2 separate regions of the Homo sapiens genome follow, and region 2 is linked to region 1. A link means that fine-mapping ties the variant in region 1 to the plasma level of a protein whose gene starts in the linked region. Region 1 holds a variant in brackets. A gene starts in the other region. All regions are shown on their forward strands.

What was found. A credible set is the group of variants that fine-mapping cannot tell apart. PIP is the chance, under the fine-mapping model, that this variant and not a neighbour inherited with it causes the effect. The UK Biobank Pharma Proteomics Project read protein levels with antibody pairs (Olink). The fine-mapping took linkage between variants from a reference panel, not from the people measured, so its PIPs are less certain.
Region 2: TGFA starts here. The variant in region 1 is the best candidate, but not a certain one, in a credible set for the plasma level of the TGFA protein (UK Biobank, PIP 0.50).

Annotation. Positions count from the first base shown.
Region 1 is chr12:111,424,831-111,430,340 of GRCh38, forward strand. The region is part of intron 2 of SH2B3 (SH2B adaptor protein 3); the gene reads left to right. Among named protein-coding and RNA genes, the nearest start is that of SH2B3, 22 kb to the left of the region's middle. RefSeq lists an enhancer at 681-1,256. The variant C/G (reference allele first, on the strand shown) is at 2,415.
Region 2 is chr2:70,551,262-70,556,261 of GRCh38, forward strand. TGFA (transforming growth factor alpha) reads right to left here and starts at 2,565. Exons shown (of 6, transcript NM_003236.4): 1 at 2,467-2,565. The coding sequence starts at 2,506. LOC124907824 (a long non-coding RNA gene) reads left to right here and starts at 1,447. Exons shown (of 2, transcript XR_007086906.1): 1 at 1,447-2,131. RefSeq lists a silencer at 2,626-2,695.

The DNA of each region.
Region 1 (5,510 bases):
CTCTGGGAACAGTTTTAAACAAAAGGAAAAGAAAGTTCTGACAACCAGTGGGTGGTGGCGAAGGGCTTAAGCTTTGGATCTGCACTTGCGGTCTGTCACTTAAAGGGTGCCCTGCAGGAGAGGGAGCAGATGTAATCCCAGTGCCAGCCTGGTGGAGGCCCTGCTGCCCAGGGCTGGAAGAGGCTTTGGAGGGAGAGAGCCAAGAGAAGGCAGCTGCCCAGAAGTCTGAGGCCAGGTGGGCTCAGCCCACAGGTGAGCCTCACCTGCAGTTGGGCCCCAGCTCTGCCCCCGACCTGCTGTGTGACCGCGGGCCTGTGGAGCAGGGTGATGGTGTAGCACCTCCAGGGGCACTATGAGGGCTGCGCTGGGAGAGAGCACTCTGTGACTGGGGGTGTGCAAGGGGAGGCCACAGTCTGCCAGGGGTGGGGGTGTGGGTGGAGGAGATGTCTGTGTTTTCCAAGGTCAGGAGAAGGGGAGAAAAGTCCCAGCTTTCTCTGGTCTCAGTGGCCACTGCAGGTGGGCAGCGTGGGCCCTTGGGAGGTGGGAGGGGGCTGCCTTCCCTGGGGTTGGTCAGCAAAGGCCTCTTGGCAGGAGGTGCCGGTCCTGATAGATCTGGGTGAAGGAGTCCCAGGCTGAGGAATGGCAGGTTCACAAGCCCTGCAGTGAGCGTGAACCAGGCAAGTCTGTGGAATAGCCAGGCAGCCTGGGGTTCGAGGGAACAGGGAAAGGTGAGACTACAAAGGTAGTGGAGCTGGATTGCAGAGGCCCTTGTGGGCCACAGTGGGGACTTTAGGTTTTACATTAAGAGCAGTGGGAACAATTGGAGGATTTAGGCCTAGAGGGCCTGAGACACTTGCTGGGGCCACCTGCGGGTGGGAGTGGGTGCAAGGGACCCTCCAGGCTACCTGTGGTCTCCCAGCTCAGGCCCGCGATGGGAGAGTATGACATGATTTCCTCTAGAGACCTCCTTCCCCTGGGCACCGCTGAGCCCCAGGCAGGGCAAGGACAGGGGAGCAGTGTGTTTATGTGGGGGAAAGGTGACATGCCTTTCATCACCCATCATCGGGCTCACGACCGACACTCTTGCAACAAGACAGGTCAGCAAGAGAAAAGCATCACAAAGTTATTGAATCAAAGTTTTATGTGACATGTAGCTTTCAGGAATGAAGACCGAAAGACCCCAGGAAATGGTCTGTCTGGTGTTTAGGTTTGATGGAGCAGGGATAGCTGCGTAAAAATGGGATTGGGATGAAAGGGTGTGATCTACTGAGCTAGACGGAGGCGGGGTCCCAGCAAGGCCTGCTTGCTCCCATTCCTCTTGGCCTCTGCATGGTGTTCCTTCCTCCCAGTGTAGGGCAGGACCTCTCTGGAACTTACAACCTGCCTCCCTCAGACAAGGTAGGTTGGAGAATTTCTCTGTGGATGGCTCCTACCCAGGAAGGTAGGGGAAGGTTAGAGTTATATTTCTAGGTTTTATGGCTGGCTTTCAGGGAGAGGGGTTCTAGATTCTATGACCCACCTTGAGGAAGAATTCTGGTTCCGTTTTTCTTTTATCTTTTTTTTTTTTTTTTTGTTAAGAGAGATGGGGATTTGCTATGTTGCCCAGGCTGGCCTCAAACTCCTGGCCCTAAGTGATCCTGCTGCCTCGGCCTCCCAGTGTTGGGATTACAGGCGTGAGCCACTGTGCCCAGCCGCCTAGTTTCTATGACTCACTTCAGGGGAGAAGGAGGGTGAGAGAGACAGGAAGGCAGAAGGAGGTGAGAGAGACTTTGCTTCTGAGGGCCCCTTCTGAGCCCTTCTAGTCTTCTTTAGTTCAAGTACGTAGCATGCCACAGCACCTTTCTTTGGGGTGTTGTTTTCTGAGCCCCAACATTCATGGCCCTGAATGTGTGCCTCTGTGTGCCAGGTGTTGCCCTAAATTCTTGGACCTTCCCATGAGCTGGAGTTCACTGACCCATTTGACAGATGAGGAAACTGAGGCACTGGGAGAAGCAAAGAGACTTGCCTGGGATCATGAAGTGAAGGGGATCTGAACCCTGAGACAGGAACTCTTGATCCCAAGGGGCCCCTAACCCCAAGCCCTTGGCCCCCTGCTGAACTGGTTCAAACCAGAGAGTGTATAACCCAGCTCCAGGCTGGGCTGGGCCTGAGGTGTGCGTCTCACCTGGCAGTTACAAGAAAAGGAAATTGCACTGGTTGCCACATTTACAACCTAAAGTGGAGAGATTTCACAGAATCCAGACTTCTGGTTTCTCTTATGGAATCCGGGGATCGGCCGGGCACGGTGGCTCATACCTGTAATCCCAGGACTTTGGGAGGCGAAGGCAGATGGATCACTTGAAGTCAGGAGTTCAAGAGCAGCCTGGCCAACATAGTGAAACCCAGTCTCTACTAAAAATACAAAAATTAGCTGG[C/G]CACAGTGACGTGTGCCTATAATCCCAGCTACTCGGGAGGCTGAGGCAGGAGAATCACTTGAGCCCAGGAGGTGGAGGTTGCAGTGAGCTGAGATTGCACCGTTGCACTCCAGCCTGGGCGACAGAGCAAGACTCCATCTCAGGAAAAAAAAAAAAAAAAAAAAAAAAAAAAAATCAGAGGATCTGGCGGTGCCAGGCCGGCATTGGAGGGGGTCCCAGCCTGGCCTGTGCTGCCACTGGTTCAGCAGTAGAGCCTGACGGGGAGGCGACAGCAGTGGGGGCCCTGGGGAAGGAGAAAGATTCCAGAAGCAGCTGCTAGGCTGGAGTAGCTGGCCTTGGGCCCCAGACCTTCCCGGGGAGGTGGGGCTCCCATTTCAAATGGAGCATGCCCAGCCTGCCGGGCCTCAGTTTCCACATATGCCCAGGCATGGATTAGCTGAGATGGTCTTGAAGTCCTGCCAGCCCTGGTGGTTCTGGAGGTTGAGCCTCAGTTTCCCTCATCTGTACAGTGGAGGACATGATGGAGTTCTAGCTGTTGATAAATGCCCTTTAAACCACCATTTATTGGGCTTTCCTTATACAGCAGGCACTTTACTGACCTGGCTTCATTTTATCTTCACAGCAGCCCTGTGAGGGTAGCTGCGCCATTAGGCCCATTTCACAGATGGGGAGACTAGGTCTGAGAGAGCTTAGGTGGCTTTCCCAAGGTCTCACAGCCCCTGTGGCTGAGAGGGGCTTGGAACCTGGGCAGTTGGCTGCCCCTGTGAGCAGTGAGTCCTTAGAAGGACTTACTGTCAGTATTATTGATGGCACTGTTAACTAGGGCCCTGCATGGGTGGGGGCACCTGTTTTGGGCTCTTGGACTAGGAAAAGCTCCTGTGGCCATTTTATCCAATGCCACCATTTTATAGATGCCAACACCGAGGCCTGGAGGGGGCTGGCCAGCGCCCCTCACCTGGCACAGAGGACTCTGCCTGGCACATCCCACCCATGGCCTCTGATGCCCAGCTTGGAGAAGTGGTAGAAGAGGGGCTGGGGGATGCCTCAGGGGGACTTAGCCCTCAGCCCTGAGCCCCCCGCTGCATCACAGGCCTGAGTGCCCAGGAGGCAGTGGTCTGGGTAGGAGTGGCTGCGACTCGGGGGTAAATGTGCTTCAGAGCCATCCCCACTCATCCCCTTTCGAGCCAGGTGTCCCTGGTGTGTGACTTGGCCTTGCTGGGCCTCAGTTTTCTGTAAAATGGGAAGTGTCATGGGGGGCAGGCTACGGTAAGCACTGATAGGGCAGGTGAGGGGCAGCCTCGGGCCCACCCTTCTGGCAGGAGACATTTGGGGCACCCAGAAGCCCTGGAACAAGGCCACTCTGACCTTGATTTTGGGAGCACAAAGTCCCCCCAAGAGATAGCACAGGAGCCCGGGTGTCTGATGAGTGACCCATCCCTTGGGGGCCTCAGTTCCTGGGTGTGCCTGGGTCTGCAGGGGAGGCAGAGGCACAGGTGGGCAGCTCCCTCTGGGTGGGCTGTGACCCTGCCTGGGCACAGGAGGGCCGTGCCCGTCCGTCCTTGCCGTGATTCTTCCAGGTGGCACCGCCCTCACACCTCCTTTACAGAGGAGGAAACTGAGACCCGGGGAGGCCACAGGAGTCGGGCTCTGGGCCCAGAGCCTGGGCGGGGATGCAGGAGCCACCCCCATGCCTCCGGGTGTGGGAAAGGGGAAGCAGAAAGAAAGGGACGTCCGCCGGAGGCCTGGCGGTTTCCTCTCGGGGCAGGAGTGCGAGGAGGAGGAGGAGGAGGAGGAGGAGGAGGAAGAGGAGGAGGAGGAGGAGGAGGGACGGCAGGAAGCCGCCTCGGGCTCTGACAGGCGCGGCCCTGGCCTGCCCCTGCCCTTCTGAGCCTGTGACCCGGGGGAAGGCACTTTGCCCTCCCTGTGCCTCAGTTTACTCAAGTAAAAATAGCTGAATGATGGCTCTGGCCCCAGGATCAACTGAGTGCTGTCTGGGAAGCACCTAGAGCTGTGCCCAACACAGCCAGTGTTCGCTGGGGCCTGCAAGGCTTTGCTGCTGCAGGCATCACTGGCGTTGTCATTTTTATTTATTATTTATTTATTTAGAGACAGAGTCTCGCTCTGTCGCCCAGGTTAGAGCAGAGTGGTGTGATTTTGGCTCACTGCAACCACCGCCTCCAGGGTTCAAGCAATTCTCCTGCCTCAGCCTCCCGAGTAGCTGGGATTACAGGCGCCCACCACCACACTCCGCTAATTTTTCTGTATTATTAGTAGAGACGCGGTTTCGCCATGTTGGCCAGGCTGGTCTCGAACTCCTGACCTCAGGCTGTCCATCTGCCTCGGCCTCCCAAAGTGCTAGGATTACAGGCGTGAGCTACCGCGCCCGGCCCATTTTTATTAATTGGTTTTCATGTGACAGGCACTGTGTCCGCCACATCCCATGGAATCCTTATCACAAACCCCGGAGGTGGGGACAGTGATGAAGCCATTTCACAGCCAAGAAAACTAGGCACAGAGAGGTCCAGAAACTTGCCCGAGGCCCCAGAGCTGGTAGGTGGCCAAGGCAGGAAATGAGAGTCCCTGGTGGGTCTGCCAAGGCCGGGGGGCACCAGGGGCAGGGGGTTTGTGTTTAGGCCCCAGAACAGGCAGAGAGAAAGCACCCACCCTCCACCGTCAGAACGAGCCTGTATCCCGGCAAGCAGGGCAGACTGAGCCCTGGTCTTGGCAGGCAGGCAGAGCTCAGGTCCTGGCGGGCACACAGGCTTAAGAAGCCGGTTTTTTCCTGGGCCCACGTCTCCTGGGGGACCAGCGGCAGAGGCTCCTGGGGTAGGAACGGAGGTCCCATCCTCACTCTGTCCTGGGCTGCCATGTGACCCAGGTAGGTCCCAGTCCTCTCTGAGCTATGAAGTGGGTGCCTGCAGTGGCCTTCTGGGAGTGATGGGGAAGGCGGAGGGGGTTGGGCAGGGCTCCTGCGGCCCCAGCCACACACACTGCCGCCCCATCTGCCCCCTTATTGGGGTTCCATGCAAAATCGTTTTTGAAAAAGTGCTTTGCCGCTTAGAAGAAACCCCCGACCGCGCTGAAACCACGGGGGCA
Region 2 (5,000 bases), not on the chromosome of region 1:
AAATGCCAAGCCCCCGTGCGGTCTGCCTGCCAGTGATGGAAACCTGACATGGGAGGGCAGCCACCACAGGAACCTGGGTTATGTTTCCAGTGTTGCCATTTGGGCAACAGTCTTCACATTCTCTTACTGAAAACATTAATCAATGCTCAGGTTCCAAGTAATCAAACATTAACCGAGACTCCTAACAGCCAGTTCCTTCTCAGACTAGCCCCACGGAGGTTTCCTAGATCTCGGGTAGCGATGGAACACTGGTTGATTCTCCTGGAACTGCCTTCAACTATTTAAGAAAAATCAGAGGGGAAAGCAGCTTTGAAGGAAATGTGCAAAGTAAAGCTATATGTGGGAGGCAGCAGTTCTAGTAAACGCACAGAACTCACAGCTGTGATTTTTCTTTTAAAGACATATAAATAAAAAGGAGTCCTCACTGGTGTAAATTACTCCTGCCTTTTTTTTTTCTCCACTTTTTTCAACTGCTCACATTTTGGAACTGTGTGAGCAAGTTTTTACATATTGATCAATCTTTTAAAGTTTATACATCATTTTCTTAAAGAAGGAAACAAAGATCAAGCTGAAAAGAACATTCAGGCAAAAGAGAAAAATTACATGATGAATGAATGCAGTCTTTGTGGGCGAGAATTCTGGGATGGGAGTGTGGGGTGTAGGGACAGCTTTCAAACACTTACTCAAATGTGCTTATCTTCATCATTTCCTGCCTCTAATTTTTACCGAATAACCACCTTGAGATCCCAGGAATTCAATAGGAAACTCAATTTAACAACAAGTTCCAGGGTATTCCACATAATCTCTCTTTAAGGCAAAGTCCCAAAAGAGAGATGGGACTATAATGACCACAAGTTAGGTGACTTTTCATATTCACATTCCTTCCACGTTCTTCGACAATCCTGGTCCAGTTACTTACTGTGGACCCTGTGTGCTTTACTTTCCTCTGCTATATAATGAGAATAATATTAACACCTTCTTTATCCGGTTGGTGTGAAAACTGCATGAATAAATGTAAAGCACTTGGACTGTGTCTGACACAGAGTAAAATGCTCGAATAGCATCAGCTGTTATTACTACTACTACTTACTACTATTATTTGCAAAAACATTACAAGGGATAATTATATCCAGGAAGCTTCCCTTGTATTGGTAATGTTTTATTGCTTTTTCTAAAATTTAAATCAGAGCAACAGTCAATACATGCACACAAAAAAGGCAATTCTTCAAAAATGTGGGGGAAAAGCCTCCCATACCCATGTTACCTGCTGGTGAGTTTCAGGTAAGGGTGTAGCTGGGAGCATCCGGTTCCAAGACTGCCTTGTATTTCTCTTACAGGATGCCTCCCCTTCTGCTGCGGTTTTTAATCAGCGTTTCTAGGGCAGGCTTGCAGGCGGGGCCGCGAACCCCCTGTAGTTGTACACGGAGCTGGGTGAGGCTGCGGCTCTGGGCATTTCTGGGGAGGAGTTCCATGGCTTTCCACAGACTCTAACCACCCTGCAGCGAGCCGCATGCTATACGGGTTAAACTCGGGGCATATCGAACGAACAATTCACTTCACGGAAGACTAGCAATAACCAGGACACCTGCGCTATTGATCAGCTATCTCAACACCAGAGAGACCCACCAGCACAAGGGGCAAGAATTGGCCAGGAGGCGCGCGGCGCTGCGCCCTCACCGCGTCCAGACAGACCCTTGAACTTCACCGCCAAAAAACGCACCGCTCCGCAGACCCGACCCGGGAGAGGGGTTTAACTTCCCCTCACCTTTCCCATCCCTCCTTCATTTCCAAGGACATACTCAAAGGAAACTGGCAACACTCGGTCTAGGGTTTCGCTCCTGCCCTCGGCGGACACCGAAACCACTTCTCCCAGGGAAGTTAATTAAAGGAACCATTAATCCGCCCAAAAATCCAAAACCTACCCCCAAAGCTCAAGAGCTCTGAAAAGAGATCGAGGGCGCCTCTGCCGATCTTGAACATCTCTGCTCGTCGCTGGGGCTTAGAGGTGGGCAGGGGGTGCCAAAGGGGCGCAGGCAAGACCCGGCCAGAGGGTTAGACGCCGGCCCCCGTTCCGAGGCGGCCCAGTCTACACGCCAGCGACGCCGGCTGAGCCGGGCTTGGAGGCAGCCAGGTAAGCAGGTAGGTGTAGGCATGTGTCTGAGCAGACACACAGCTGCGGCGGATTAAAGTTCAAGCCCGTTCACACTCCGCTTCCCCTTCCCAGGTGTTCTCACGCACGGCCCAGGCAGCCACTTTCCCGGGGAAGCCTCGGCGCTCGACCGGACAGTCCCCTCTTTGTCATTCTTAATGACTCCCCTTGCCTCCCAGGCGCCAACCCATTGAGACTACTCGCTTCTCTCCACTCTCCCAGGCGGGCGCAGAAACCCCCGGAAAGGGGAACTCGGCGGGGACCGGGGGAAGCAGGGTGTCGCGCGGCGCAGGGGGCGCCGCAGCCGGCGTACGTACCCAGAGCGAACAGGGCGAGCTGTCCAGCCGAGGGGACCATTTTACGGGCGGGCGGGCAGCAGGCTCTCCAGCCTCCTGCCCTACCTGCGGTGCCCGAGTGGCGGAGCGGCGCCGCGGTGCGGGGGAAAAAGACGCAGACTAGGCAGGGCCTGCCCCCGGCGCGGGAGGGCGGAGGGAGGACCGAGCGCCTCTCTGCTGGCACTCGCCCCGCAGCGCTGCCCGCCGGGCGGAAATAGGAAGGCGGCTACCGTCACCTCCTCGCCACTCGGCGACCGGGGCACAGCTGACCCCCCCCTCCCGCCCCGATGGGGGTGCCCCCCTGAGGGCACAGAGGGTGGGGGTTTGGGGTAAGGGGCGGGGACGCTGAGCGCACCGAGCAGGGCGCGGGCTGCTGGGCGGGGCGACCTGGGATCCCAGAGCCTGGCGGCGCGAGCCGGGCACCCGGGCCGACGAAAAGGCAGGAAGCGCCTGACTTCAGACACCACCCCCGACTGCCAGCGCCGTGCGGCAGCGGACTCCAGCGTGCGGGGTCGGCGCCGGCCGCGTAGCCGGATTGTCCTGGGCCGCAGTGGCGGCTTCCAGGCTCTAGGCGGCGGAGCGGAGCCGCCCGGGCACCCGTTACCTACACCGAGGGGCCGCTCCTGGGGCATCTCTGGGGCGGGGAAGGCTGGAGGCTGGGGACGCAGCCAGGAAAGGGACCTGTGAGTTTCGCCGGCCGCTTGCCAAGACTTGGCTCAAGGAAAGTGGTCCCCTGAATCAATGAAGAATTTGTTAAACCAGGTTTCCCACCTGTGCCACAGTTCCCATCAATTCTGGCAACGCCTGCCGCCTTACCTCCCAGGCAGGCCACATCGTTAAGATCAGTCTTCGTACTTCTGGCCTGGGACTGATAAAAAATGGGTCTCTGTGACGAATCTGGTTATATGGCACCACCAGCTGAGGCCAAAAGCCTGCTAGCCTGCCACCAAGTGTACCCCGAAAGAGGGGTGTGTGGGCCCGAGTCACCTGGGTGGTCCTTTCAGGATTTGTGGCTCTGAGGTGGCCCCTGGTGCTGGAATTTGGGGAGGTGGAGGGGATAGAGGGAAGACATTCTGGGCGAAGAGTGGAAGATCCATAGGTTCCTCGGTGACCCTCATGGGGACAGTACACCCGGGAGATTCATGTTCTCCAGGTACCCGGAGCTCACGGACTGACCCTCTTCTCCTGCCTCCTCTGGCCTACGTGCTCCGGGTAGATCCACTTTCCTTGAAGGTGGGGGTGGGGGCTGTTGGGCCTGGGGAATCTTTTGCTGTTTACTTGGGGAGGCTCAGGCTCTCACGGTTGACCTCTGCCCAGTTTGTTTCATGTAAGTAGAGCAACCTAGTTTCAAGAAGGAAGCACCAGGCCATTGGTCTCAACATTTGGGCAGGAAGCACCAGTGTAAATCATTCCTTTCAATAGATTTGTCGGAGCATACTTTGTTCTTTTAGGGTAAATCTTTTCCTTGGTCCACCCCATGCATGTACAAGGCACACATGCACTTCCTTTAGTAGGTTGTCCCTGACTCCCACTTCCTTCAGGTTGATCTTGACCTGCTCTGGTGGTTTCCCTGTCTCCTCCCTAAACTAGTCTGCTTTGGCTACAGAAGGGGAGGAATCAGGGGTTCCCCCACCCTTCTCCTGTTCCCCAGGACTAGAGAAGGACCTGACTCCTTGCTTCCTACTGGAACACGCAAATCAAGCTCACTGTGGCTGAGGGATGGCTGCCCAGCCGGCTGAGGGTCATGTTCAGCAGTTTCTGCTTATCTGTCCCCTACCCCCAAAGTCAGAGGTGGAGGGAAGTAGCAGAATCAAGTCAATTTCCTTCATGATTGGAAAATATTTTAAATCAAGAGGTAACTTGCAGGCCAGGCATGGTGGCTCACACCTGTAATACCATCACTTTGGGAGGCTGAGGTGGGTGGATTGCTTGAGCTCAGGAGTTCGAGACCAGCCTGGGCAACATGGTAAAACCCCCCATTTCTACTAAACATACAAAAAATTAGCCAGACATGGTGGCGTGCGTCTGTAGTCCCAGCTACTTGGGAGGCTGAGGCACGAGAATCACTTGAACCTGGGAGGCAGAGGTTGCAGTGAGCCAAGATTGTGCCACTGCACTCCAGCCTGGATGACAGAACAAGACTCTGTCTCAAAAAAAAAAAAAAAAGAAAAAAAGAGATGGCCGGGCGCGGTGGCTCACGCCTGTAATCCCAGCACTTTGGGAGGCCGAGGCGGGCGGATCACGAGGTCAGGAGATCGAGACCATCCCGGCTAAAACGGTGAAACCCCGTCTCTACTAAAAATACAAAAAAAATTAGCCGGGCGTAGTGGCGGGCGCCTGTAGTCCCAGCTACTTGGGAGGCTGAGGCAGGAGAATGGCGTGAACCCGGGAGGCGGAGCTTGCAGTGAGCCGAGATCCCGCCACTGCACTCCAGCCTGGGCGACAGAGCGAGACTCCGTCTCAAAAAAAAAAAAAAAAAAAAAAAAAGAAAAAAAGAGATAACTTGCCATCTTACA